Regions from separate parts of the Homo sapiens genome. Here region 1 is linked to region 2. Evidence: fine-mapped expression QTL. A gene starts in region 2. The other region holds a variant in brackets. All regions are shown on one strand. Distances are from middle to middle.

Evidence for each region. PIP is the estimated chance that this variant, and not a neighbour inherited with it, causes the effect.
Region 1: its variant is fine-mapped to the expression of SRL in skeletal muscle (GTEx, PIP above 0.99).

What each region holds. Positions count from the first base shown.
Region 1 is chr16:4,213,078-4,215,983 of GRCh38, forward strand. The region is part of intron 1 of SRL (sarcalumenin); the gene reads right to left. Among named protein-coding and RNA genes, the nearest start is that of SRL, 28 kb to the right of the region's middle. The variant C/G (reference allele first, on the strand shown) is at 1,145.
Region 2 is chr16:4,240,753-4,243,658 of GRCh38, forward strand. It overlaps SRL (sarcalumenin), which reads right to left and starts at 1,328. Exons shown (of 6, transcript NM_001098814.2): 1 at 1,255-1,328. The coding sequence starts at 1,315.

The sequences.
Region 1 (2,906 bases), 28 kb before region 2:
AACCTTAGTCTGGAGTTCTTTTTGCCCCCATGGAGTTCACAAACCATGTCCCATGAAGTGCTAGGGTTCCATAGAAGTGACTCATGGGGTGAGGAAAGATCAAACAGCAGAGACAGCCACCCACTTTGTACTTCCTGCTCTCCTTGAATTTGTCTGCCCCAGTGTCCACAGAGAAAGACTGCAGGGAGATTGGCAAGCCCTGCTCCTTTACTCTCCTCGCTTCTTCCTTCAAAATATTAGTATCTGCCTTGAGCCTCCTATCCATTATTTTCTCCAACGTCCCAAGACATCCTGCTTACAGCATCTTTTTTTTTCTTTTTCTTTTTCTTTTTTTTTTTTTTTTTTTTTTTTTTGAGACAGGTCTTGCTGTCGCCCAGGTTGGGGTTCAATGGCACAATGACACCTCACTGCAGCCTCCACCTCCTGGGCTCAAGGGATCCTCCCACCTCAGCTCCCCCAAACAGCTGGAACTCCATGTGTGTGCCACCACATCCAGCTGATTTTTTTCATTTTTGTAGAGATGAGGTCTCGCTATGTTGCCCAGGCTGGTCTCAAACTCCTGGCCTCAAGCGATCCTCCCACCTCAGCCTCCCAAAGTGCTGGGATTACAGGTGTGAACCACGCTTACAGCATATTTTCACTTTGCCAGTCCACACGTGCCAGGCTCTCAGCTGGGTCATCTCCTGCCCTCACGTAGGACTCCATCTTTCCAAGGTAGTTTCCTGTGCTTATTCTTCTCTGATGCTCCTAGCAGCCCTCTGAGGCAGAAAAAGCAAGGGTTGTTAACCTCTCTTGAAATGAGGAAACAAACACACGGAAGTCAAGTCGTTTGCCTCACAAGTCATTCCAGGGATGGGCTGGAACTCAGGCCAAGAGACAGAACAAAGCTCCCTGGGAGCGACCATGACCTGCTGAGCTGTTCAAGCCCAGATACCCAGCTTCTGGGGCTGGGTCAACGTGTACCTGTGTGTTTCACAAGGGGATTCTACAGAACACCAGCATTTCGGACCCTCTGCACTAGCCATCCTCAGTACCAAGGGCCAGGAAGCTCTGTCTTGAAGTTGAAACTAGAGATGGAGAGAATAGAGGTCAGGACCTGTTTTCAGCCCACCTCTGGGTGTTGAATGTATTCAGTGCCTTCGTG[C/G]AATCAAATGTAGATTCTATTCCAGCCCGTCCAAGTCTCCTTAGCACATGTTTATAACAAGTACCTGCCAAGGTTATTCTTCCACATGACTTCTCATCCATTTGAACTAGAGCTAGCAAGTCCAAAGTCATGCGTAAGTAAAATACCTCTGACCATTACTCATACACAGTTATGCAAATCAGTCATTAGTAACAGAATCCCCAGCGGGGGCAGGAATCACTCTCCAAATCTCTGCCTGGTTCATCTGTCCCAGAGAGTGAGGAGCACCAGCCATGGCATACATGTGAGCCCCATGTCTTGCCCCCATCCACCCCCCGCCCCACGTTTTGGCTCTCATTGGCTGTATATTAAGTGCAGCAGGGAGCAATTCAGAAAACAGAGTTCATGCCGCAGAGCAGGCAGCCTGCCCCCTTCCTTGTTCTAGATCTTGTCTCTGAACACTCGTGGACCGGGCAAACGTGGGCCAGCAGCCTCTTCTGGTGTCCTGTTTTTCCTTGACTTTATCCTACTGGGTAAACATTCACTGCTCAGGACCCCTTGCTCTTCCACTTTTTTTTTTTTTTTTAGACGAAGTCTCATTCTGTCGCCCAGGGTGGAGTACAGTGGTGCGATCTTGGCTCACTGCAACCTCTGCCTCCTGGGTTCAAGCGATTCTCCTGCCTCAGCCTCCCGAGTAGCTGGGATTACAGGTGCCTGCCACCACTCCTGGCTAATTTTTGTATTTTTAGTAGAGACAGGGTTTCACCATGTTGGCCAGGCTGGTCTCAAACTCTTGACCTCAGGTGATCCACCCGCCTCAGCCTCCCAAAGTGCTGGGATTACAGGCATGAGCCACTGCACCCGGCCTCTTCCACTTCTTAGATGAAGTCTTAGGACAACTTTGCAGAAGGCTGTTGCCCATAAGGACCCGAGAAGAGAAATTCTGGCTGGAGGAAGGCTTGTCTGCATTCTCCCAGGACCCCTGAGGTCCTCTTCTGCCATTCTCTCAGCCTTTCCCTCTTCTCCCAACATGGGCGACCAGAGTGCAGGGGCTGAGGCAGCCATTCTTGGAAGGCTTCTTTGGCTTCCTGGCCATGCTCCTAAAGTCAAGGCTAATCCCACTGGGACAGCTTGTCCCTGGCTGGACTCTAGCCCTTAAAATGATTCATCCAGGGAATCAGATACAATGACAAAAGTATGACAGGGTACAATGACAAAGGTAGCAATCAGAAAGAACCTTGGGATTTGGGGGTCCAGAGAGATCTTCTGATAGACCAACTGGCTTGATTTCACTCATGAACAAAACCCCAAAACCCTGGTAAGTGCTTGTCCCAAGGCCATGGGGCTAGTTAAGGTAGTAGGCAGCAGTCTGCTTCTAGAACTCAGCTCTCTATGGACGCTCTCCCAGCAGTGGGCCAGCCAATAAGAGGGTCTAAGTCTACCCTAGGACAGTGATTTCTTAGCCCACCCTCTTCTACTCTTCAATAACAACTGTTTTAGGCTGGACGCAGTGGCTCTGAGAGCCCATGGCTCACACCTGTAATCCCAGCACTTTGGGAGGCCGAGGTGAGAGGATCCCTAGAGCCCAGGAGTTTGAAACCAGCCTGGGTAACAAAGCAAGACCTCTGTCTTGCTTACTACTTGCTTTGTCTTACTACTGGCCCATCTTTCCAAAAAATTTTAAAATTAGCTTGGCATGGTAGCGTGCGCCTGTGGTCCCAGCTACTGGGGAGGCTGTGGTTGACGGACCTCTTGAGCCTAGGAGTTTGAAGTTGCAATAAGC
Region 2 (2,906 bases):
CACAGGAGCGGCCACGAAGGGAGAGGGTGGCAGCGGCTTGGGGCTCCGGATCCAATTACGCGGCTGTTTCCATACTTAGCCGCCTGACAGCCGCCTGGAATACTCAGCACTCAAGCCGCTGCAGCCCTGCAGAGCCCAAATTAACTCAAGGACAGACAAGGGCAGGGCCCAGCAGCACATGCAGTGGCTGGAGCCCCCCACCTTACATCTTGAGTCCCCGAGAAATAGCTTTTGTTCCCACCCACTGCCTGCTCTCCCTGCAGGGACTGTGCCCCTGCAACCCCCTATTCAACCTCAAAGACCTGAGAGGCTGGACTCTGGGCCTCTCCAGTCCCAGGTACGGACCTAGGCTCAGAGCCCAGCTTGGGGGAAGACTGCCGAGTCATGAAAAGACTCGGTGGGCAGTCCGGATCCTAGGGGGATCCCCGGAGCACCTCCCTAAAAGCATTCCCTCGGGGAACCTGGCCTCAGGAACCTTAGGAACAAGAGAGGTGGCAAAACAATCTGGCATCTCCTCCATAGCCTATAGATAACCCCCATGCTGCAACCCAAGCCACCACCTCTGCTACCCAAAGTGCTGAGATGTCAAAGGGAAGCCTCAGCACACAGAGCCAAGCCCCTTTTCTGATGGAAGCCCCCACCCCGAGCAGAGGCTCTACTCCAGAACGGGCCCCGTTCCTCTTCTGAATTGCATCCAATGCTGTTTCCAGCCCAACCGCCAACTCTATTTCCGATCTTATCCCAAACCAATTCCAATTCTATCTCACTGCTCCCAAAACGGTCCCCACCTTTGCCCACTGTATCCCCTTCTGTCCACGCAAACCCAGTTCTCTTACCCGAGTGGGGCCTCCGCCTTATATCCCACCAGGTGGGAGGGTCACCTCAACGACCTCCAGCTCCCAGACTGTGCTATTTTGTCCGTCTCAGAGGCTCCCCCGTCTCGACTTTGAGGGCCCTCTTTCCCACATCTACTGGCCAGACTCCTCTCTGACCCTGGCTCACAGCTCAGCTCTGTTTGCCGTTCCCACTTCCTCTGGCCTTCCTGAGGGCCCCGCAACTGTGCTGCTATTCTCCAGCACCCAGCTCTTTCTCTGAGGCCCCAGGCCCGGGGAAAAGAGAAGGGTAAGAAGACACCAGCCAAGAGCCAGGGTTTGCCATCAGCCCCGACCCCCTACCCAACCCATGGTAGACAGAAAACCTTGGAGGAAGCGTGGGGGACCAGTCTGGGCTGGGTCATGCTGGGAGGGGCCCTACCTGCTTGTCCTGAGAACAGGAGCGAGGCCAGGAGGCAGCCGAGCAGGACCAGCGCCCTCATGGTGACTGCCAAGAGAGCCCAGCTGCTCCTCGCCTCTATTTATACGGCCGGCCGTGGCAGCAGGCGGTGGAGGGGGGAGAGGGGTCACACAGTCACCAGGGCAACTAGGAGGGTGTGATGGGGAAGAAGCCCGGACCCCAGAAGGCTGTGCAGAGGCTCAGGCTGCGCCACTGCTGTCCCAGCTGCCAGGCCCCAGAAGGCAGGGCCGTGGCTGGATTCTCTTCCCCCGAACCCCTGCAGCCCTGGGATCACATGACATGGGTCACAGGGCGTGGGTGACAGGCATAAAATGGAGCATCCCTTGGGCTCAGGCGGTGGAGCTGGGAAGCTGAGTCTTCCCAGAACTTGCAATAACTTGACCTGAAGTCTCGGCAGGTTAAGGACCTTGACACGCCTGCACTGGAAGGAGGAAGTTGTAAGGCCACGCAAAAGAAATCCTATTTAACAGCCACTGATCCACATGCTAGAGAGTGGTCAGCTACGGCAAACCCGCAACATGTGACCTCTGAGGTCCAAGGCTGCAGCCCTGGAACAACCTTCCCAGCCTCTGGAAGAGAGAGAGCACAGACCAGAGGGAGAGGGGCACACTGAGACACAAGCTGAGGCTACGGTGTAAACTGGAGGATGGAGCAACAGATATCCATTTCCAATGGCCCAGGGGTTCCAGAACATTCAGTCACCTCTGCAAAGTGCTTTTTTGTTTATTTGTTTTTGATAGAGGATCTCGCTCTGTCACCCAGGCTGGACTGCAGTGGCACAATCATCACTCACTGCACTCGACCTCCCAGGCTCAATCAATCCTCCCAACTCAGCCTCCCAAGTAGCTAGGACAGTAGTGCCACCATGCTGTACTAATTTTTTAAAATTTTTTGTAGATGGCCCAGAGAGCCAGTTGTAAGAAGCCAAGGGAAAGCAGACACTTGCTTGTCTGGTCGGGGTACAGTGTCACTGTGTGGGGAAGAGGTAGAAGCCAGCCTTGGAGGAAAGGAACTAAATCAGGGCCAGGCACAGTGGCTCACACCTGTAATCCCAGCACTTTGGGAGGCCGAGGCGGGTGGATCACCTGAGGTCAGGAGATTGAGACCAGCCTGGCCAACATGGTGAAACCCCATCTCCACTAAAAATACAAAAATTACTGGGTGTGGTGGCGGGTGCCTATAATCCCAGCTCCTCAGGAGGCTGAGGCAGGAGAATCACTTGATCCCAGGAGGCGAAGGTTGCCATGAGCCAAGATTGCACCACTGACTCTAGCCTGGGCAACAGAGCGAGACTCTGTCTCAAAAAAAAAAAAAAAAAAAAAAAGAATTAGGCATCTGGTAGGCACTTGACTTTTTTTTTTTTTTTAATCTTTTTTAAGAGACAGGGTCTCTGTCACCCTGGCTGGAGTAGTGACACGATCATAGCTCACTGCAGCCTTGAACTCCTGGGCTCAAGCCACCCTCTCACCTCAACCTCCGAGGGGCTGGGAATACAGGTGTGCACCACATCTGGCTAATTTTTTTGTTTTTTGCAAACATGGTCTTCCTATGTCACTCGGGCTGGTCTCCAACTCCTGGGCTCAAGCAATCTTCCTGTCTCGACCTCCCAAAGC